3 linked regions of the Homo sapiens genome follow. The main gene of each other region encodes a partner of the protein of the gene in region 2 in a complex. Each region holds a gene or a part of one and is shown on either strand. Other genes may lie near its edges. A codon is read from its position in the direction of its gene.

Evidence for each region. Proteins that work in one complex are often made in the same cells at the same time.
Region 1: the proteins of NCBP2 (region 2) and NELFE are in contact, whole or in part, in a crystal structure (PDB 5OOB), measured with the Homo sapiens proteins. Residues at the interface, in NP_031388.2 of Homo sapiens: Phe49, Tyr50, Thr51, Thr52, Glu53, Gln55, Lys68, Ile69, Ile70, Met71, Leu73, Lys77, Lys78, Thr79, Ala80, Asp107, Glu121, Gln124; in NP_002895.3 of Homo sapiens: Lys361, Arg362, Gln364, Ile365, Val366, Tyr367, Asp369, Tyr372.
Region 3: the proteins of NCBP2 (region 2) and NCBP1 are in contact, whole or in part, in a crystal structure (PDB 5OOB), measured with the Homo sapiens proteins. Residues at the interface, in NP_031388.2 of Homo sapiens: Gly4 (codon at 4,871), Leu5 (codon at 4,874), Leu6 (codon at 4,877), Lys7 (codon at 4,880), Leu9 (codon at 4,886), Arg10 (codon at 4,889), Ser11 (codon at 4,892), Asp12 (codon at 4,895), Ser13 (codon at 4,898), Tyr14 (codon at 4,901), Glu53, Glu54, Gln55, Tyr57, Glu58, Leu59, Lys62, Ser63, Asp65, Lys67, Ile69, Tyr89, Asn96, Arg99, Tyr100, Asn102, Gly103, Thr104, Arg105, Leu106; in NP_002477.1 of Homo sapiens: Glu32, Cys36, Leu71, Thr74, Val75, Arg77, Leu78, Leu79, Ser324 (codon at 6,755), His325 (codon at 6,758), Trp326 (codon at 6,761), Lys327 (codon at 6,764), Glu328 (codon at 6,767), Arg329 (codon at 6,770), Lys330 (codon at 6,773), Ile368, Val370, Met371, Thr374, Glu378, Asn415, His419, Ser422, Asn423, Gln425, Lys455, Arg458, Leu459, Ser460, Tyr461.

The regions. Positions count from the first base shown.
Region 1 is NC_000006.12:31,955,954-31,963,524, reverse strand, and holds the start of NELFE (negative elongation factor E), read left to right. Parts: upstream 1-4,553; 5' UTR 4,554-4,633; exon of another isoform or gene 4,634-4,945; intron 4,946-5,043; exon of another isoform or gene 5,044-5,070; 5' UTR 5,071-5,078; coding exon 5,079-5,153; exon of another isoform or gene 5,154-5,217; intron 5,218-6,514; coding exon 6,515-6,584; exon of another isoform or gene 6,585-6,686; coding exon 6,687-6,832; intron 6,833-7,571. Other genes in the region: SKIC2 (superkiller complex protein 2), read right to left, coding at 1-112, 434-540, 727-811, 940-1,086, 1,471-1,616, 1,850-1,978, 2,139-2,329, 2,431-2,484 and 6 more. UniProt on the Homo sapiens protein: Essential component of the NELF complex, a complex that negatively regulates the elongation of transcription by RNA polymerase II.
Region 2 is NC_000003.12:196,939,511-196,947,364, reverse strand, and holds the start of NCBP2 (nuclear cap-binding protein subunit 2), read left to right. Parts: upstream 1-4,836; 5' UTR 4,837-4,861; coding exon 4,862-4,939; exon of another isoform or gene 4,940-5,406; coding exon of another isoform or gene 5,407-5,430; intron 5,431-6,222; exon of another isoform or gene 6,223-6,391; intron 6,392-7,237; exon of another isoform or gene 7,238-7,488; intron 7,489-7,854. Other genes in the region: PIGZ (GPI alpha-1,2-mannosyltransferase 4), read left to right, coding at 1-208; protein NCBP2AS2, read right to left, coding at 4,349-4,648. UniProt on the Homo sapiens protein: Component of the cap-binding complex (CBC), which binds co-transcriptionally to the 5' cap of pre-mRNAs and is involved in various processes such as pre-mRNA splicing, translation regulation, nonsense-mediated mRNA decay, RNA-mediated gene silencing (RNAi) by microRNAs (miRNAs) and mRNA export.
Region 3 is NC_000009.12:97,643,821-97,650,838, forward strand, and holds part of NCBP1 (nuclear cap-binding protein subunit 1), read left to right. Parts: intron 1-1,296; coding exon 1,297-1,404; intron 1,405-1,790; coding exon 1,791-1,912; intron 1,913-3,671; coding exon 3,672-3,741; intron 3,742-4,187; coding exon 4,188-4,403; intron 4,404-6,682; coding exon 6,683-6,780; intron 6,781-7,018. UniProt on the Homo sapiens protein: Component of the cap-binding complex (CBC), which binds cotranscriptionally to the 5'-cap of pre-mRNAs and is involved in various processes such as pre-mRNA splicing, translation regulation, nonsense-mediated mRNA decay, RNA-mediated gene silencing (RNAi) by microRNAs (miRNAs) and mRNA export.

The DNA.
Region 1 (7,571 bases), on a different chromosome or scaffold from region 2:
CAAAAAGAGCTCCCCCTGGGTCTTGGAGCTGTTCCCTGTGAAAAGATAGTGCTCCAGGGGCACGGGGCGGGTTACAGTGCTAATCACATAGATCTGACGACGCTTCAGCCGCCTGAAGAAAGGAGAGGGAAGCAGGTCAGGGGTGGGAACGTGGGAAGGAACCCACATCCCCACCCCCTTCCCTACCCCTCCAACTTTACCCAGTCTTTTCTGAGACCCAGAATGGAAGGCTATCCCCCAACATCTCATCCCATTTCAACATGCAAAGTAATCTGGACCCAAAGGGGATCCCACAGCCACCAGGTGGGACATGTTCCCCAGCATCACCCCTAAGGCCTGACCGCTCTCCTTGCTGTGGTAGACTTAGTCCCCCACCCGAATCAAGGAGTACTGTAGCCCCCTTCACCCAGGCAACCCGGGACACACGTCTCACCCAATCCAGTCAGCAAACTCAAGGGCGTTGGGGACGGTGGCACTCAGAAGGATGATAGAAACGTGGTCAGGTAGCATGATAAGCACCTCCTCCCACACGACCCCACGCTGGGCACAGAGAGGGAAGGGAGGTCACATGAGGGCAGGGGCCGCCCTTCTGCCCATAAAGAGGCACAGGATTCCATATGGGGGTAAAGAAAGCAGTAAGGGGCCCTGAGTGTGTGGAATAAGGGAGACGCTCAACTGGTCCCAAAGGAGAGGACTGCCGGGTTCTGGGGAGCCCATGGCCCTTACCTCGACATCGTTGATATAGTGAACCTCATCAAAGATGACCCACTCCAGGTCCCGAATAACATCTGAGCCACTGTACAGCATGGAGCTGGGGAGAAGAGGCCAAGGATTGACTCCCCAGTGGCTCGTCTCCACCCCCTCCTCAGACAGCACACTCTCCACAACGGCCACATCTTCCCAGCCAAAACTCCCCTGTATTGAGTGTCCATCTCTCACCGAAGGATCTCTGTGGTCATGATGAGGCAGGAGGCCTCCGGATGCAGCTGTACATCCCCGGTGAGCAGCCCCACATCCCCGAATGTGTTTCGGAAGTCCCGGAACTTCTGGTTGCTCAGGGCCTTGATGGGCGAAGTGTAGATGGTGCTGGGAAGAGAGCATGAAGTTAGCCAGTCCCTCCGCAGACTCATGGCCCGCACTTCCTCTCCCACATGGAGCCCTCGTGGAAGCATGCCCCAGAAGCTCAGGTGCTCCTCTTCTTCACCCAAACTGCCCTTACATTCTCCTGCATGATATAACCCCAGAAAAATTCTGTCCCCAACCCCTTCCTAAACTAACCCAGGTCATTCTTCTAAACTTTCTCCCCACCATGTCTTTTCATTTCTCTCTGGGCTCTTGTCTCAGTCTTAGCCCTGAACCTCTCACTTAAAGGATGAGCTAGAGAGGTGGGGGAAGAGATGAGATTTTCAAAGGATGCAGGAGAAAATGGGGCTGGCTGGTGAAGGGGGAGGTTGGCAAAGGAACTCATACCGTGTCATGTGTTTCTGGGCCAGGGCAATGGCATATTCAGCCACAACTGTTTTTCCTGCAGATGTGTGAGCTGCGACAAAGACAGAGTCATGCCGTTCCAAGTGCAGGATGGCCTGTTTCTGAAACACATCTGGCTCAAATGCCCACTATGGGAGAGAGAAATAGACAGGAGCTGAAGAAAGGAGCGGGGCCTTGCTGCCTCCTGCTCATGGAGCACGCAGGGCGGGCGGATGAAGGCCGGAGCCAGCCGAGGCTGGGACTGAGTACCAAGACTGGCCTGGGATGGATCTGACCTCTGGCCAATAGAGGAGACAAGGGGTCGGCTGGGAGTGTGACCCAGAAAGAGGTAGAGGAGCGTGTGAAGATGGGGCCAAAGTACCTGGAAGGCTGGCTGGGGAATGAGGCGATAGAAATCACCAACAGGGGAGGTGGCGTCCACAGGGATGGCCCACTGCTCCTGAGATGGAGGCTCTGGGGCCTCTGGGGTGGATACAGCTGTGGACGCTTCCTGGAAGAGTCAGGGGTAGCAGTGATAAAGATACAACCAGAGGGCTCTCAATTAGCACTCCTCCCAAAAGATGTCCCTTTCTTCCCCTCAGACCCATCCTAGCCAGCCCACATCCTGGTGGCAAGGCTCTTTCTTGCCTCCACTACACAGAACCACCAACCTTCAACACTAGGTCTTCCAAGCTGCTTGCTCGGGCCAGGGGAGCACTGCAGGGAGAGGCTGAAACAGTGTCCCCTCTGGGACCTCCTGGCTGTCCCACTGCCTCATTCTCATCCTCGTCACCCCCACCCAAATCCAGAGGCTCCAACATACAGCTAAGGCTTAGTAGTCCAGGAGCTGGAGTTGGACAATCTGAGGAGCAAGCCAACAAGGTCAACCTTGTCATGTCCATCTCTGTTCCTTAGGAGAAGGACATGACTTCTCCTACACCCCACTCAAAAACTAAAACTAACCTTTTGGTGCAAAGTCCATGCCTTTCTTGAAACCAGGTGGAATAGTAAGAAGATCTGTAGGATAGGGACATGAAATCAGGTCACTGCACACTGGTGAACAAATTGTGTACATTATATAAACCTAAAAGATACCATTTACAGGACAGATGCTGTAGATAGGGATGTTTGCTATGACACTTTCCCAACAGATGACAGTAAAGGTTGTTGTAGAAATTTCCCAGCAGATGACAGTAAAGGTTGTTATGGACAGAATATCTTTTTCTAATTTTCTCAAAAACATGGGAGGGCTAGCAGTAGCCCAGTGATAGCCTGGGCTCTTCCTCCTCAAGGCTCAGACTCAGAGCCCCACCTTACCTTTCTCAAAGTCTATCTCCTCCTCAGCCTCCTCCCGTGTGTTCAGATCTGTTATGGTGGGTTCATCCATCCCCCCTGGGAAGAGACAGGACAGACAGGGATTCATGGGATGAGGGTAATACGAGATAGGTGGGGAACCCTTCCCTGGAGATTAAAGACACCCTCTTCTACCATCCCATCTCCACAAGAGTCACCTGGCCAGAAGGGATACTGAGTTGGATTTCCCCATAAGGACTGGGAGGCTGGCCCTGGAGGCCGGCGAAGAGACAAGGAGGTTGTAGCCGAGAGATTTGTGTTCTCCAGCAAGACCTAAGGCAAGAGATCAGAGCCCCAATGAGGCTGAGCTTGTCTCTGACCACCTCCCCTTCTCCCCAACTGTTTCTCATGACCCCTGACCTCCTACCTCTTTGTAACCCAGTATCTGGCCTGTGGTTGGGTGTCTTTGGGCCTGTAGGTCGGATGGGACTGGGGCTCCCAGGACAGCCAAAAGAGACCAGGGATCCGTCTTCCTCTGCCATTTTCTGGAGAGAAAAATAGTAACTTTTGGGTCTTCTTTCTTCCTCTGTCCCAGCTTCCTTCAGGAACCCATCACCCTAGTCTAAGCCCCTCCAGACTCCTCACCGGGCTGAGTGCTCCACACCATGCAGAGGCAGCCAGGCTGGGGATGACAGAAACAACTGTTCTGCTTCTTGCTGCAGATCTGGGGCACAAGGAGGGAGGCCATGGGGAAGCTGAAACAAGGGCAAGATGAGAGGCATTAGGTAAGGAAAGAGGATAAAATGCAGACAAAAGAGATGATGGGACTTGTGTTCAGATCAGAAATGGCAGATGTGTCAAACAGACTAGGACAATCAGGCTTGGCCAAAAACTACCTGCTACTGAATTACCTGGGGCAGATTTTGGATTTCAGAAACATGGAGGCTGGACCTAGGAATGTGCATTTTTAAAAAGCTCCCTGGCTAATCATGAAGCACACTGAAATTGGAGACTCACTGATTTTAGAAAAAGGGGTCCCAGACCTAAGGATGAAAGGTTGGAGGCTCAAAGCCTATCATCTCAGTCACCAAGTGCCCTGGTGCTTGGATACAGAAGGGAGCTCCACGGAGAAATGCCACATTTGAAAGAGCAGCTCTCAAAGCAAAAATATCCCCAGCCCTTTCTGCTCTGTCCTCACATGTACTGCAGGTACACTGGGCTGTAATCTGTCCAGCACCCCTTCAGGCTGGGATGGACAGGAGTACAGGCACAGATGAACAAGGTTAAGCTAGATCCTACTGTGAGGAGGGTGAAGGAGGTTTGGACTCAATGCGGGTCAAAGGTTAGGGTCAAAAGTCACTCACGCTACTCTCTGGAGCTCCAGGCAAGTTCAGCAGCTCCCAGTGCCCCGTGCATCCGAGCTCCACGGCCCGAAGGGGTAGGTCCAGGGGATCTGGAGGGGGTAGCACTACGGGGAAAGGTCAAAAGTCAGGGGTCAAAGTTCATTCCATATCGGCTACTCCGTTCCATTTCCCTCCCCTCCCCCTCACCAAGTCGCTCTGTCTCCATCATCCTGGAGCCACAGCAGCTGCCTGGCAGCCCGGAAGTGCGGCAAGTAGTCGCTGCGAAGTAAGCCCCGCCCCGGAACGGGCGGAAGTAGAGGCAACTTCCGGTACAGCCCCGCCGAGAGCGTGAACTATCGCTGCGGAGGGGCAGACCTGGACCGGTGGAAGGCCGGGCGGAAGTGCGCGCCTGGGGCCGCCTTGGTTACCGCGTTTTCCGCTCCTCGCTACGTCATCGTTGTGAGCCCGCTATCAGCGGCCAGCGCGGGCGCGGCCGGAGACCGTGGGGCCCCCGGTTGCCGCCCCCTCGGGTAAGGCCCTCTGCTTCTCACTCTTCGGCCCTTTTTCTCATAGCCGTTTCTCTGTTCTTCCTCTTTGCGTTGCTCTGCGGGCGCTACGCTGGCTCCACCGCCTTCTCTGCCGTTCAAACCCCGCGGTTGTCCTTACCCTAGCGAGGGTAGGGGGGTCGGGTGCCATCGTCTTTCCGACGGAGTGGATATTTGTCCCTCCTTGAACCACATGGTACCTAAAGGTGCTGGTGTCTGTGATCCCTGGAGACAGGAGGGAATGCTGGATGATCCCGACCAGCGGGAGCTTGGACAGCAGCCTGGTTTAAGCAAGGGGTAGGGAAAGCCAAAGACAAGAGTAGGCAGACCTGAAGGGGTGGGGTTGGGTACAGTGTGGACGGCGTGTGAACCCCGGGTGGTAACAGTGGAGAAAGATGTCTTGGGCCCTGCCCCTGAACTAGGAGCCACCATGTTGGTGATACCCCCCGGACTGAGCGAGGAAGAGGAGGCTCTGCAGAAGAAATTCAACAAGCTCAAGAAAAAGGTGAGGGACTGTGTGTGGACATGGCCTAACCTTTCACAGACTCTGCACTCTGAGAAGATATGGGGTGAGTGTGAGCGAATGGGGAAGTTTTTCTGGCCCATACCTAGAGACATATCACCTCACAGTGTAGCTTCGAGAGGTGGGCTTTCCCAAGCCTTGGTGTGGACCTTCTGTCTTTTCTATGCAATTTGCCATGGATTGTCTTCCTTTCCCATGGCTTTTAGTACCGCTTAAGAGCTGATGATCCCCAAGTTTGTTTTTTCCAGTTCTATCCAGTGTTATACTGAAAAACTTCAGATACTCAGTGTTGAAGCTATCATCTTTCTATTCTTGATCTTCCAAATAAGATTGACTACACCAATTCTGCCACATGTTTGGACTCAAAACTCTGACTTCCCCACTATTTGCATAGTCAAACCTTTGCCAAGTCTTATTGTTTCTTCTTTTGAAGTAATTTTTCCTGTTTATTCTTCACTGTGCATTCCCCCGAGCAGGGCTTTATTGACATTCATGTGGGCCATTGTAATGGTCTCTCAACAAATTTCTCAGTCTTTTTTTTTGAACAGACTTCTTCACTCCTGTTCAAATGATCCATTGAAAACACAAAATTCTGCTCCCTCTGTTTCTCAAAAACCATAAATGGCTTCACATTGTCTATAAAAAAGCCTCAAAACCTTAGTTTGGCAGCCTTGTCTAGTAAAGTAGAACTATTCACTACTTCCAAAAGATGCATTCCCAAAGCCTTCTTATCTCTGCATCTTTGCCACCCTGTTTTCTTTTTCTAAAATACCCTTCTCCTCTCTGTGTTGTGCAGAGATACGGGAGAGGGCCTAGTTTAATAGCCATTAAACATCAGAAAATCTTACTAGCTTTCAGCTATGAATAATCTGCACCTCTTATAATTGTATTGCTAACTCAATGTATTTTATTTCTCAGACTGTAAGCTTCTTGAGGGTAGGAACAATGCATTAGCCTCCTGGATATCCCTGTTACGAAGTCATGGCTGGGCCTCATTCAATATGCAGGAAATAGATGGATGAAGCTTCCAGGAAAGGCACATAAACTTATACTTACTTGCAGCTTATATCCTAGGATTCTAGTCCATGATTGAGTTATTTGTCTTCAACTTCAAAAATGTAACACTCTGGAAAACCTCTGGGTTCCGTGGTTTGGTTAGATTAGGAATTTCCAGCATCATACATGATCTAGGGGACCAGAGGCAAGAGGCAGAGCACATCAGTGTACCACTCTGAGGGCATCAAGAAAGACGGTCCCTGGAGTGATGTGCCCAGGGGCCTTAGGAGAGGAACCGGCTAGGGGCTGGCCCTCACTTACCTCTCTCTTCTCACCCTTGTTCCCAGAAAAAGGCATTGCTGGCTCTGAAGAAGCAAAGTAGCAGCAGCACAACCAGCCAAGGTGGTGTCAAACGCTGTGAGTGACAGGGGAAATGGGGATGGACTGGAAGTGGGCAGCATGGAGCTGACCTTCATCATGGCTTGGCCAACATAATGCCTCTTCCCCTTGTCTCTCCAGCACTATCAGAGCAGCCTGTCATGGACACAGCCACAGCAACAGAGCAGGCAAAGCAGCTGGTGAAGTCAGGAGCCATCAGTGCCATCAAGGCTGAGACCAAGAACTCAGGCTTCAAGCGTTCTCGAACCCTTGAGGGGAAGTTAAAGGTGAGCACAAGCAGAAAGATTGTTTAAAGGGCATCCCTCCAAGTTGGAATGTAGATGGGTTTGGGGAAAAATATGCATACTCAAGCACTGGCAAATTGCTGTACCATTCTGAGTTTCACCTCTCATGTATAAAATGAAAAAACTAGACGACTCCTGAATTCTCCATTTTACAAATTCTGTGGTTCTAATCCACCTTGGATTGGAGCTCTTGGAATATGTTGCCCTAAGGGATGGAAAGGGCTGAAAATGTTATCAGGTTCAAGAGAGGTTCAAATAAACTGAATACATAATATATCGAGTCACTTATAAAAAATACCAGCTGGGCGTGGTGGCTCATGCCTGTAATCCCAGCACTTTGGGAGGCTGAGGTGGGCAGATCACTTGAGATTAGGAGTTTAAGACCAACCTGGCCAACATGGTAAAACCCCGTCTCTACTAAAAATACAAAAATCAGCAGGGTGTGAGGCCGGGCGCGGTGGCTCACACCTGTAATCCCAGCACTTTGGGAGGCCGAGGCAGGCGGATCACGAGGTCAGGAGATCGAGACCATCCTGGCTAACAAGGTGAAACCCCATCTCTACTAAAAATACAAAAATTAGCCGGGCGTGGTGGCGGGCGCCTGTAGTCCCAGCTACTTGGGAGGCTGAGGCAGGAGAATTGCTTGAACCCAGGAGGCGGAGCTTGCAGTGAGTCGAGATTGTGCCACTGCACTCCAGCCTGGGTGACAGCGAGACTCCGT
Region 2 (7,854 bases):
TGGTGGGCCATGGCTCTGCCGCCTCTTTGTGGTAACCCCTGGCACCACCAGGCGTGCCGTGGAGAAGTGCAGCTTCCCCTTCAAGAATGAAACACTTTTATTTCCCCATCTGACCCTGGAGGATCCACCAGCCCTGTCCTCCTTGCTGAGTGGGGCTTGGAGGGACCACCTCAGTCTTCACATTGTGGAGCTGGGGGAAGAAACCTGACAATATGACAGAGCACCCACTGCCCAAGACTCAGCCATAGAAGATGCCGCCCCACCTTCTACTTGGGTAGCTGGGCTGGGACGCTGGGACAGGACCCCGTCCTCCTTCATGACTCCCACTGCTGCCTCTCCTGGGCATGGCTGTTAGCTGTTCTGCCTTCTGGGTGAGCTGGCACTCTTCTCCCTGAGACCAAAGATTTGACCTGTCGGTCTTGATGTCAAGGTCCCCAAAGACCAGGTTAAGTGACGACACCTGTCTGTTCCTGCCCTGTTGCTTCCAGCCACTGTGATGTTTGAAATATGTGATAGTACCTGGTTGTGAAAAAAGACAATGAACTGCTAGTGACATTCCTCAATGACCTCTCCCAAACCTCCCATGATGCCTTACCCTTGCTGTCATGACAACCCTCTGGCTTCCTAAGACCCATCTGCCTATCGAAATATGTGCAAGTCAGTGAGACGAAGTATAGAGAACAGGTGGCCCAGATCCAGGGGACCCAACTTCTGGCCCCTTGGTCTGTCACCTCCTCGCTGTGTGATCTTGAGAAAGCTCCTTCCACTCACCCACCCCACTTCCCAGTCTGTTGGGATCAGAGGAACTTTGAGGTGTCTGCCGGCTAACATTGTGTCATTCCTGGAGTCCACAGTACACGTCCCCTGCCTCAACAGGCACAGCTCTCACAAAGCTCTTCAAGCATGGAAGTGGGAGTTGTGTTGTACTTCATGGCACTCTGATGCCTGCTGTCTCAGTGTTTGGTTATTATGCAAACAAGTAATGTTTGAAATATATAATAGCACTGGAGATTTTCTCCCTACTTTCTTTTACTCCTGTTCCTGAGAGGTGGTGGGAAACTCTCCAGCCATTTCTGCACCTTGTCCTTAAGAGTCATTCTCCTGGCTGGGCATGGTGGCTCACACCTGTAATCTCAGTACTGAGAGGCCAAGGTAGGCAGATCTCGAGGTCAGGAGTTCAAAACCAGCCTGGCCAACATGGTGAAACCCCATCTCTACTAAAAATATAAAAATTAGCCAGGCGTGGTGGCACGCACCTGTAATCCCAGCTACTCAGGAGGCTGAGGCAGGAGAATTGCTTGAACCCAGGAGGCAGAGGTTGCAGTGAACCGAGAGCCACTGCATTCCAGCCTGGGAGACAGAGCAAGACTCCGTCTTGGGGGAAAAAAAAAAAAAGGGGGTCATTTTCCCAGATTAGGGAGCCAGGTGTTCTTCCTCCTTAGAACTGTGGGTCTCAAGCCCTCCCATCCTGCCCCAGAGGGCAGAGAACACACAACACTCAGCTAGTGTCTGGTTACCAGCCTCAATTTTTCCGATGGCTTCAAGCTTTCTAGATTGCATGATTAACTGTGCTGCCTAACTAGAAATGATCAGAGCTGGGTGTGGTGGCTCACACCAGTAATCCCAGCACTTTGGGAGGCGGAAGCAGGAGAACTGCTTGAGGCCAGGAGTTCAAGACCAGCCTGGGCAACAAAGTGCAATGCCATTTCAACCAAAAACAAAACAAAACAAAATTGTGGCTGGGCGCGGTGGCTCACACCTGTAACCCCAGCACTTTGGGAGGCCGAGGTGGGCAGATCACAAGGTCAGGAGATCGAGACCATCCTGGCCAACGTGGTGAAACTCCGTTTCTACTAAAATACAAAAAATTAGCCAGGCATGGTGGCACGCACCTGTAGTCCCAGCTGCTCAGGAGGATGAGGCAGGGGAATCACTTGAACCCGGGAGGTGGAGGTTGCAGTGAGCCGAGATCGCACCACTGCACTCCAGCCTGGTGACAGAGTAAGGCTCCGTCTCAAAAAAACAAAAAAAACAGAAAAAAAGTTTTTAATTAGCTGGGCATAGTGTCATGGGCCCGTAATCCCAGCTACTTGGGAGTCCCAGGGAGGAAGATCGCTTGGCCCAACGGGTCGAGGTTGCAGTGACAGCTAGTATTGTGCCACTGCACTCCAGCCTGGGCAAGAGTTAGGTCCTGTCTCAAAAAAAAAATCAGAAATTTAGCTAGGAGCTTCAAATGACAGGACATTTCTATATACAATGGATTTCCTAATCGCAGGTCTGCTAACTGGCTGGATCGTAGTCTGTCTGTATCCCTGACCCTCTAAAATGAGGGGTAGTGAAGGGGTGGGTTGCCCCTCCACACCTGTGGGTGTTTCTCGTTAGGTGGAAGGAGAGACTTGGAAAAGAAAGAGACACAAAGTATAGAGAAAGAAAAAAGGGAGCCCAGGGGGCCGGCATTCAGCAGACGAGGATCCCGCCGGCCTCTGAGTTCCCTTAGTATTTATTCATCATTCTTGGGTGTTTCTCGGAGAGGGGGATGTGTCAGGGTCATAAGATAATAGTGGAGAGAAGGTCAGCAGATAAACACGTGAACAAAGGTCTCTGTGTCATAGACAAGGTAAAGAACTAAGTGCTGTGCTTTAGATATGCATACACATAAACATCTCAATGCCTTACAGAGCAGTATTGCTGCCCCCATGTCCCACCTCCAGCCCTAAGGCGGTTTTCCCCTAACTCAGTAGATGGAACATACAATCGGGTTTTACACCATTGCCCAGGGACGGGCAGGAGACAGATGCCTTCCTCTTGTTTCAACGGCAAAGAGGCGTTCCTTCTTCTTTCACTAATCCTTCTCAGCACAGACCCTTTACGGGTGTCACGCTGTGAGGGACGGTCAGGTCTTTCCCTTCCCACGAGGCCATATTTCAGACTATCACATGGGGAGAAACCTTGGACAATACCTGGCTTTCCTAGGCAGAGGTCCCTGTGGGCTTCCGCAGTGTTTGTGTCCCTCGGTACTTGAGATTAGGGAGTGGTGATGACTCTTAACGAGCATGCTGCCTTCAAGCATCTGTTTAACAAAGCACATCTTGCACCGCCCTTAATCCATTTAACCCTGAGTGGACACAGCACATGTTTCAGAGAGCAGGGGGTTGGGGGTGGGGTTACAGATTAACAGCATCTCAAGGCAGAAGAATTTTTCTCAGTACAGAACAAAATGGAGTCTCCTATGTCTACTTCTTTCTACACAGACACAGTAACAATCTGATCTCTCTTTTCCCCACAGGATAGGAGTCCAGGTAACTTGTTCCATGGCAGGCAGTAGTCTTTTTTTTTTTTTTTTTTTTTTTTGAGAAAGGTTCTCGCTATGCTACCCAGGCTGGTCTCATCTCAGGCTCATGCGATCCTCCTGCCTCTGCAGTGGCTGGGATAAGACACAACTGCCACCAGGCCCTGCCCCTAGGCAGTAGTCTTAATGCCTGATGGTGGGGGGTTGGGGAAGGAAGGGGTTGAGTATCAGGGTAAATGCTGCAGAGCTGTGTTAAGGACTTAGGCCCTGGAGTCAAATGCCTCTGCTCACATCCCACTCTGCAAGACTTTGGGCAACTTAAGCAGCAGCCTCTGTTTCCATCGCAGTGGCTCTTGCCTATAATCCCAGCACTTTGGGAGGCTGAGGCGGGAGGATCACTTGCGCCCAAGAGTTCGAGACCACCCCATCTCTACAAAAAAATCCAAAAAGTAATCTGCTTCCTCATGTGAATGTCGTTGTAAGGAGTGAGATAACACATAGAGTGCAATGAGCAAGTCCCAGCACAGAAGACTCATTTCATAAAATACGTGTTTATTATTACCATAGGCCTACAGTCCCCGGTATTCTTAACACATCTTGCCTGAGAAGTATCACACTCATGCCTATCAACCAGCTCACACATTTAATCAAAGGAATTTGGCAGCTGTAGGGTTGTCTTTTCATCCATATCGTCCCTGGAATTAACTGTCCTGCTATACCAGTCAGATTGAGCAGCATCTGTCAAGAGTTTCAGTCCCACTTGCAGAGGAAAGGCTCTCTGGCTTCGGTCCGTGGCTCTCCGTAGGTGCCGTGTCTGGACCCAGCCTACCTTCATCTCTGTTAGGCTTAGGGCTGTCTCCACACTGTGTCTTGTCCAATCACAAGACTTCAACGGAGCGGGCGGTCTGGCCTAGGCTCTTATGCGTGGGATGTCTGCAGGCCAACAATCCCAGTCGGGATTCGAAGCCGCGCGCAGTGCCCGGAATGACCCCTCCACATTGATGCCACTGTAGAGCCCGGAAGGAAAAGCAAGCGGCCTCGGCCCCGCACAGCCCAGGATTAAATGTTTGCGCCAGGGCCCCTCTGGCTACCTGGTGGTGGCCCCGAGCGGCCTCGGAGGCCGCGGCGTAGCTCCTGGGTGAAGGCGTCTCTAAATCGCTCAGCGCGGCGGCACAGGGAGCCCACGGGCCCAGCCGCGAGGTCCTGCAGGCGGCGGGCCGCGTCCTGGCCCCGCAGCTGGGCCTGCAGCAGTGCGAAGGCCGTGAGCTGCGCCGCACGTCGGATAGGCCGCGACTCTGACAGACGTTCCACCAGCTGCGGGCTGTGCAGCAGGGCGGCCAGCAGCCGCCGCAGCACCATCTTCTCCAAGCGCCCGGAACCCGACCTCGCCGCCCTCGTCTTCCGCCCCGCGGCGCCCGACCCGGACGTCTATGCCCCCGCGCAGCTTGATGACGACACGCCGCCCTCGGATTGGGTCCAATGAGATGCTCGCCTCCGCGCGTTTCCGCTTCCGCCATCGCGGACGCAGCCTCGTGCCGGGAGTCGCCGCATTGTGGTCCGCTTCTCTGCACTATGTCGGGTGGCCTCCTGAAGGCGCTGCGCAGCGACTCCTACGTGGAGCTGAGCCAGTACCGGGACCAGCACTTCCGGGTGAGGGAGGCCGGGCCGCGAGACGGGAAGGCCCTGGGCAAGAACGCTGAGAAACGGTTTGCTCTTGTCTCATTGTGTCGCCTCCCATTCAGCTGAAATCCGCAAACGCCAAGTGGGGCCCCGGTGCCTGCTGGCGAGGCAGGGAATGGGTGCTGGAAGGGCGCTTGGATATCACTGAAGCCACTTGCTCTGGAAGACGGGGAACTGGAGGCTCGCTTATCCCATTCGCTCGCAGCCGCTCCCTGTACCCCAGCCAGTGCCGAGAGGTTTGAGCGGTGGTGGTGGTGGCGGCTCCCGTTTCCACGGTTGTGCCTCCGCAGACGACTACGTAGCAAGGGGGAGGGGTGCCCTTCTCTCTCCCAGAGTAGGCAGAGGCGCCTTCCTGATGCAGATGCGGGGCTTTTTGCTTTGTTTTTTAAATCGGCGAAGCAGTGCCCTTCGGCGATTCGGGCCCCTTCTCTGGGAGGATGGTGTTACGGAAGCTGTACGCGGTGCGTGGGAGACACAAGTGGAGTCCTCACTCCGCCCTCGGGGAAGCTTCGGAGTGGGGAGGTGGACCCGCCAAGCTCGGCACTTTGAGGGTGTTCGGATGTAAAGATCGGAGAATTGCTGGATTTCAGAAGAGGGAAATTTTTAGTCCGGACTATATCACAGTATATTTTGTGGAAAAAGGGGAGGCAGCAGATATTCAAAGTAGACTTTTCAGTATCAGCGGAGGTAGGGATGGAATACGGTTGGGGGTTGGCGGGGCGGGACTCATTAACCCAATTATTTAGTAAACGTTTATCGAGTGCTGTCGCCAAATCCTTGTGCTAAACCCTAGAGGGAGAGGGAAGACAGTTTCTGCGCTCTGCGAGCTCATAATCCCCTGTAGTGAGGATTCAGAAAAGGGAAAAATCCCCTTGTGACTGGGAAAGGAAGGGGCGCATATAGCAGAGGGTAAGTGTGGAGAATGTGTGAAATGTGTTACTAGAGTAGGGAAAGGGAAATTTTGTTTGACGCTAAATTAGGGAAGCTCTTAGATTTATTTAGTCAAGGCTGGGAACGGTGGCTCACGCCTGTAATCCCAGCACTTTGGGAGGCTGAGGCGGGTGGATCACGAGGTTAGGAGTTCAAGACTAGCCTGGCCAAGATGGTGAAACCCCGTCTTACTAAAAATACAAAAATTAGGCGGGCGTGGTGGCAGGCGCTTGTAATCCCAGCTATTCGGGAGGCTGAGGCAGGAGAATCGCTTGAACCGGGGAGGTGGAGGTTGCTGTGAGATCGCGCCACTGCACTCCAGCCTGGGCAACAGAGCGATATTCCTTCTCAAAAAAAAAAAATTTATTCAGTTAATGTATTTTATTTTTTGAGACAGAGTCTCGCTTTATTGCCTAGGCTGAAGTGCAGTGGCGCAATCACGGCTCACGCAGCCTCAACCTCCTGAGCCTAAGTGATCCTACCCACCTCAGCCTCCTGAGAAGCTGGGACCACAGGCTCGCGCCACCACATCCAGCTAATTTTTTGTAGAGACAGGGTCTCCCTGTGTTGCTCAGGCCAGTCTCGAACTCTGGGACTCAAGCGATCCACCTGCCTGGGGCTTCCCAAAGTGCTGGGATGCCTAAGTGCCAGGCATGATTTGCACTTCTACCACTTTTAGTTACTACTTTAGACAGTTCCACATCCTGACCATTTTGAACTTAAAGCATCCTGTGAGATGAAAACTGGAACCTTCTGACTTTGTCTATTATTCATCTCCTCAGTCTAAACCTGTAGCTTTTTTTAGATGCTAATGCCATACTGTCATGTGGAATTTCTAGCATTCTGTGAATGGAATCCATATTAATATACTTTAAGCACTTACACCACAGTTATCTTAAACTGTAGGCTATTTATTTGGATCTTACTTACATGTGTGAGAAAAGTAGAAAAAGAAGATGCCTCCTTTCCATGTTCACAAATCAGTAACAGCAGTAAAATGAAAGGAATTTACTTTCTCTAATGTCTCACTCCAAAGTTCCGAAAACCTCTTTTTAACATACAATGACTATTGTCCTGTGGACTTTTTTTTTTTGAGATAGAGTTTCACTCTTGTTGTCCAGGCTCAAGTGCAGTGGTGCAATCTCAGCTCCCTGCAACCTCCACCTCCCAGGTTCAAGCGATTCTCCTGCTTCAGCCTCCCGAGTAGCTGGGATTACAGGCGCCCGCTGCTACCATGCCCAGCTAATTTTTGTATTTTTAGTAGAGACAGGGTTTCATTCACTATGTTAGCCAGGCTGGTCTCAAACTCTTGACCTCAGGCGATCCACTCGCCTCAGCCTCCCAAAGTGCTGGGATTACAGGCATGAGCCACCGCGCCTGACCCCGATGAGCCATTTTGGACCCAGGGCTTTGTCTGTCAGGTGTGTTGGATGAAGCCCAGTTATATGCTTAAGTCTCTGGCTTCATCCTGTCATCCCAATTTGGAAGCCCATTAAGAAAGTGAGCTCTGTTTTGTTTTTAGTGATCACTACATTTTCCCCTAAACTCAGAGAAAGATCTATGAGCACGTAAAGCATCAAGGTTGTGGCTTTCAACAGTCTCTAGGGGGTTATTAAAGAGGAACTCTCTCTCTCTCTGAAAACCCACTTATTTTTCACTACGAAGGATAAAAGGGCCCTTTGTCATATATTGGGTCAAGGTCCAGAGTCTACACTTGGGTTTAAAGGATGCACTGCTGAGGATATGGTGTGTGCAGGGAAAAGGGAAGCCGCTTGCGTGGCAGTCGGGCGTAGAAGTGACTTTGTTGTATGTGGTATAACTTTTGAGCCCTGTCTCTACTAAGAGTCTGGACTTCGCATAAGTGCTTCACAGAAGGTCGACATCCCCCTTTTTGGGCAAGGGATTTCTGGTAGGCTGGGATGAGAGAAGTTGATTTCCAAACCAGAATTAATGAA
Region 3 (7,018 bases), on a different chromosome or scaffold from region 2:
TTTATGCCTTCCTCCAGATGTTCTTAATAGCCTCTTAACTGATCTTTTTGCATCTAGATTCTCTGCTTTTCACTTTGTGTTCTACAGTGGCACCAGACTGGTCTTTCTATAACTAGGCTCTGCACATGTTGGTTACTGGTTAAAAAAACCTTAGTTCCTTCCCATTGTCTACAGTGAGTGGTCTTAAAAGCCTGGTGCACAAGATGATTCCTTGGGTTTCAGGAAGTGAATATTAAGAACTCTTATTTATCTTAAGTGGAAATGAAATTAAACCTTACTAATAATACATAGATTAATGGTGATCCAGTGTATATCATAAATACATATGTATGTGTTGAAGATATGTGATCAAATTCTTTTTTACTGAGTACACAATCAAAAAAGTTTGGACACCCATCAGGCTATAGGATTAAAGTCCAGACTCTTTAGCCTGACCCTTTATGGTTTCCCCAGTCTGTTTCTCTATTCTTGTCTCCCATATGCTCCCCAGCAATATCAAAATAACTTGCAGATCCCTAAACACACCTTGTTTTTGAACCTCTATGCCTAGACTGCCCTCCTTGCTCACTACTTGAGGCTGTTGCTATCCTTTATGACCTAGCCTAATTGTTACCTCCTTTGTGATGCTTTCCCCAACTCCCTTTGTCATTGTTCCTAAAAAATGCTTAATTTGCCTTTTAGTGTGGGAGTCATTCCTTTGTATTGAGATTGTGCTTGTTCCACTAGAATGGGTCCCCTAACAGTGACTTTTAGTAGTGTTTAGCAATAGCACACTAAGCACACCCAATAAATATGTGTTCTGTAATTTCCATTTCTGTAATTCAGTGAAAATTACAGCCAAACAGAAAAGGAGATTATAGGTTGAAGTAGCTAGAATATTTTACAATCTGGATTCTTGATGTAGTATAGCATAGAAACGTATGAACTCACAGATTACTGTCCTTTATATAGTCTTTGTTACAACTTCTCAATTCTGCCATTGTAGCACAAAAGCAACCATAGACAATATGTAACTGAATGAGCGTGGCTATTCCACTAAGTTTACTTATGGGCACTGAAACTTGAATTTCATGTAATTTGTATATGTCATAAAATACTCTTGATTTTTTTTTCACGCATTTAAAAATGTAAAAACCATTTTTAGTTCCCAGCTATGCAAAAAACAGGTAGTAGGCTAGATTCAGCCCTTAGGCTATAGTTTTTTAGACCAATAGTTTAGCCTATACAAGATTGCTTATTTTGTAGTTATTATAAAGAACATTTAGGTTTAATAGCAGAAATTGTTTGCCCCAACAGGTCCGTTTTTTATCTGATCTTGTGAATTGTCATGTGATTGCCGCCCCATCAATGGTTGCTATGTTTGAAAATTTTGTAAGCGTAACTCAGGAAGAAGATGTACCTCAGGTAAGAGAACCCCTCATGCTGAATCTTGAGGGGTTCTTGAGGGGTTACTGAATCCTGGTACTTCCATATAGTACCAGGAATTTTTCGCTGATAACCCATTAGCAATAAAGAAAAAAATAACAGCAGACTATCACACTTTAAGTTCTTACTATCTAAAAATTAAGCTGACTGGCACACTGGTGGGTTCTCATAATATCTGTATGTTGATTTAAATGATGCTGTCTAGTAAGATTAGAACTAATATATCTAGAAATGCTCTGTATAAACCAGATGTCTTATTTAAGTCCTATTAAATAGCTTCCATAGGATTTCATTCAAGAATAAATAAAATATGAATGAATATAATTAAAGCATATTTTAAACTTAACTTTTTAAAAATCCTTTAGGTGCGACGAGATTGGTATGTGTATGCATTTCTGTCATCTTTGCCCTGGGTTGGAAAGGAGTTGTACGAAAAGAAAGATGCAGAGATGGACCGCATCTTTGCCAACACTGAAAGCTATCTTAAGTAAGGGCACAGCTCATAGTACTCTTTGTTGCTTAGGTAAAGGATATCTTATATCAGTGATACCATTTGAGTTTCTCAAAAATAAGCTGTAGAGTTCCTGAAGGTATTTTCTAGGTAATCCTGTTCTCCTGCTGTTTTAACTCACTGAGACCTCAAAGTAGTCAGATATGGTTTGCTTACTTTTGCCAGTGCAAAGGACAGTTGGCAATATAGCTTCTTTTAAGCTGCTTTTATATGTTTGTTTATAAAAGACATAAAACACCCTAGTGCAATAGTTCCTCAAATATTAGTGTGGATAAGAATTACCTGTGGTACTTAAAATACTCAGACCCCAACCCCCAGACCTGATAAATTATACAATTTGAGAGAGAGGTTTGGACATCTGTATTATTAACACATTTCACAAGTGGAGAACCACTGTCCTAGCACATACAGTATATTTAGTTCATGTAAATTAATCTTAAATCAAGCTCTTAAAACAGTGGTCCTTAACCCTCCATCCAGCCAGTACTTCTTAAGTAATATGACACATTTCAATTAAAATAGTCACATGTCTTCCCATTACTCATCTCTCCTAAGCCAATGTAAAAGCTTGGTTTATATTGTTAGATACAATAATAATAAATAGGTCTTTTTAGTAAATTTATGCTTAACTATCCAGCAACATGGTAATGGTTATGTGGCCCTTAGGTTTTTACAGATTGATTTTGTTGTTAAGTTTCATTTTCTCTTTTTTAAGTGCTTTTTTTGGATAACTGTTAATAGCTACTTAGTTGGTTATTAAGTAAAGTTAAAAGAAGCTTAAAAAATAAGAATCTTTTGGCCGGGCGCAGTGGCTCACGCCTGTAATCCCAGCACTTTAGGAGGCCAAGGCAGGTGGATCACCCGAGGTCAGGAGTTTGAGACCAGCCTGGCCAACATGGTGAAAACCCATCTCTACTAAAAAATACAAAAATTAGCCGAGCGTGGTGGTGGGTGCCTGTAATCCCAGCTACTCGGGAGGCTGAGGCAGGAGAATTGCTTGAACCCAGGAGACGGAGGTTGCAGTGAGCCGACATGGTGCCGCCACTGCACTCCAGCCTGGGCAACAGAGTGAGACTCCGTCTCAAAAAAAAAAAAAAAAAAAAAAAGAATCGTGTGTGTGTGTATACATATCCTTTCTCTTTTTTATTCAAATGATAGCCCAATATACACACTGTTCTTCACTTGGCTTTTTTTTTTTTTCTTACTATAACTTGGATTTGTTGCATAAAAATACTTAACTCTACTTCATTCTTTTTAACAGTTGTAGGGTATTTCACTTTTTAATGTACCATGATTTCCGTAGTCTCCTGTTGGTGGACGTTTAGGTTATTTTCAATCTTTTGCTCTTATAAACAATGTTTCAGTGAATATCTTTGTGTATATGTTTTTATGTACATGTGCAAATATATTTATGGGGGATATAAATTTTTAGAAATGGCATTGCCGAGTTGAGGGTTCTAAACAATTTTGATAGATTTAGTCAAATTACCTTCCAAAGAGATTATACTTTCCCAAAGAGATTATATCAGTTAACCTCTTTGTCAACAATGTTTGAGACTGAATCTTGACCTGCATCTTGATGATACACAGTACATTATCAAAACAGTTGATATCTGCCACTCCAGTAGGTAAAATGTTATTTCATTGCTTTAATTTGCATTTTAATAACTGTGAGGGTGACTGAGCATCTCTTGTTTTTAAAAGCCTAAATGTAGATTTTCATTTTTATCTTTAGAAGACGCCAAAAGACTCATGTACCCATGTTACAGGTATGGACTGCTGATAAACCACATCCACAAGAAGAGGTAAATGGATTTCAGTCCCTTGTGATACAAACACAGTCAGCTCTTGAATAGATTCTTATCTCTGTAAGATACTCAGACCATTCCATTTTACCCTTTGACTGTGTTTCTACATTTCATGATAGTTCCTTCTCATAGCTCAAGGTGTATGGTAGGTCTTTAATAGATGATAGAATGTAATTGAAATATTCCCTTGTTCTTTGGAATGCCAGCTATTACAGAGTTGACATATATTTATTTAAATGCTTAATTTGAAAAATGTCAAAACAGACAGTTCCAAACAGGTAGACTTTGTAAGTAAAATAAAAACAAAAACTTAGCACCTTTTTTTGTACCATCTTACAAGTTAGCTTACTTTTGTATCCTGTATTTTAAAGGGTAGTGATTTTTTCATTTTGTCTAGTCAAAATGTTAATTATATTAATGATTAAAAATTAATCTGTCTTTAGTATTTAGATTGCCTGTGGGCCCAGATTCAGAAATTGAAAAAGGATCGCTGGCAGGAACGGCACATCCTAAGACCTTATCTTGCCTTTGACAGCATCCTGTGTGAAGCACTGCAGCACAATCTGCCTCCTTTTACACCACCTCCTCACACTGAAGATTCAGTGTACCCAATGCCAAGGGTCATCTTCAGAATGTTTGATTACACAGATGATCCCGAGGTAAGTGACCGACTAAAAGTCCTAGATATTGACCTGTGTTGCATTGTGCTTGTGGGTTAATCCCGCTTGAATTATGCCTGTGGTATGTTTTAATTTTGAGTTGTTTTTATCTAAGAAGGTCAGTAGCAATGAAGTTAACTTTTTAATTCAGTGAATGATATCACCTCATTATGCAAGAAATTATATTTGGCATGTGTAAATAGATTACAGAGACGTGCACAGTTTGCAGGCTAAGAGTGTGGGTTTTGGGTTTTTAGAGCTACGTTGGTTTGTGTTTTAATCTTGGTTTAGCCAAATACTAGCTGTGTTAATTTGGGAAGGTTATTTACCTCCCTGTGCTTTCATTTCCTGAAGGTAATAATAATAGTATACATCTCATAATAGTAGTATATATCTCATGTTATGAGGATTAAATTATTCACATGTAAAATGCATAGAACAAGAACAGTGTCTGTCACATGATGAATGCTCAGTCATTCTGGCAATTTTTCTTTCTTATTTTTTTCTTTTCGAAATGGGGTCTTACTTTGTTGCCCAGGCTGCAGGTGAGATCTAAGCTCACTGCAACCTCTGCCTCCTGTGCTCAAGCGATCCTTCCACTTCAGCCTCCTGAGTAGCTGGGACCACAGGCATGTGTCACCTAGCCTGGCAAATTTTTTGTAGAGTTGAGATTTCGCCATGTTGCCCTGGTTGGTCTCAAACTCCTGGGCTCAAGCAATTCGTCCGCTTCGTTTTCCCAAAGTGTTGGGCTTACAGGCATGAGCCACTGCACCTGTCCATAATTATACTTAATAAGGTTATTTCTCAGTAAAAGTACCTAGTTTTAGGTATGGTCCCTCTCTAGGCAACACAGCCTGTCTTGTGATTATTCATATTGTATGATTATTTGAAAACAAATGTTGGAAGTATTTTTAATTAAAAAATTCCAAAGATTAGTCTAAGCTGACTTTATCATTTTTAATATACATGTTCTTTATTTCAAAGTCAAGTTTCCTGGCAGCCATTGTACTGTTATAATTGTATATTGTACAATTAAGAAAATTTATAATTTTCATTGTGGGTACTATCCTGTGTATTGTAAGATGCTCAGCGGTGTCCCTGATCTCTACCCTCTAAATGTCAATAGCACTCTCCCTGCCTCAGTTTTGACAACCAAAAATATCTCCAGAGAGTGCAATATGTCCCCTCAAGAGCAAAATTGCCCCCAGTTGAAAACTATTGCCATAAAAATTAATATTACCACCTAAGTCAAATTTGAGTTTCTTCTATTGTCTCTTTTCTGTTCTATGGTAAAGTGCTAATGACCAGTAGGAATTTAGTATATATGTAATCTATTTTGGAATAAAAATTTCTCAGATAATCAGTTACATATACAAAATTATCAGCTTGCTGCCGTCTTTGCTATATTCCATATGTAACCAAATACTTTAGTCAAAATTATGTAATGATCTACTTAGATATGTCTAACTGAAAATCTGGTTTACATTTAAGACTGCTAATGTTTGTGGTCGGGTATTTTTTTTTTTTTGTGCAGGGGAAACTAGAATGGGACCTCAAAATTTGTTTCTCCTGAATTTGTATTTAATTGGTATCACCTCTGTAAGGTGCATATCCATCCCTTGCTAGAAGAGTATAAATATATAAAATACATATTACTCCCAAAACGAACAGGATTTTGTTTCTGTTCTGGCCTTTTACAAGTTGTTTATTAAAAAACATTAGAAATTGTAAAAAAAAGATTAGAATCATCCAAAAGTCATTATTAAAGGTTTATTTTGTGTGTTTTGAACCTGTTTGCTATGAATATACTTAAGAATAAAATAATGCCATGTAGGGAATATGTTTTGAGCTTAGACAGTATATTATGGGCATTTTTCAATTCATGCATGACTTTTTATGGCTATGTGGTGTTTGAATAGAATTTTCTCTCTGCATAGTTATTAATGGAAATAATTCACTCTCGGTTTAAAAAATAAACTCTGTAAGACTTGTATTATCCAAAATTATTTAGTTTCATATAATAATTGGTGTGTAAAGTAGGCAGTGGTTGTATGGTTAGGTATGAGATGTGGTAGAAAAAACACTACAGCTGATACTCTGGGGTATAAGTGAACATGACAATGGAATTTCCTGAAATATAGAGCTTTAACACTTCAGAACTTTTATCCCCATCACCCAGTTTAGTGCTTGGAACATAATAGTCTCTCAAATATTTGTTGAATAAGTAAAAGAAATCTGTTTTCTAGGCCTGTAGTGTACACATTTGGTTTTCTTTCCAGGGTCCTGTCATGCCAGGGAGTCATTCAGTGGAAAGATTTGTAATAGAAGAGAATCTTCACTGCATCATTAAGTCCCACTGGAAGGAAAGGAAGACTTGGTAAGATTCTTTTCATGGTACTTTTAGAAGGGAGAGAAGCAGCAATTTTGATAATTCAGTAAGAGCAAAATATATGTTGAGAGTGTAAGAAAATTTTATCCTCCTGACTCCCTGTCTTGCTAAAATCAATTTCTAAAAACACTTGCTTTACTTTCTCAAGGCTCTTCACCCTTGTATAGTACTTTTCGAGGTGCTTTATAGTAATAAGCGTATGATGCCAGTGTGTTTGGTGTGGATA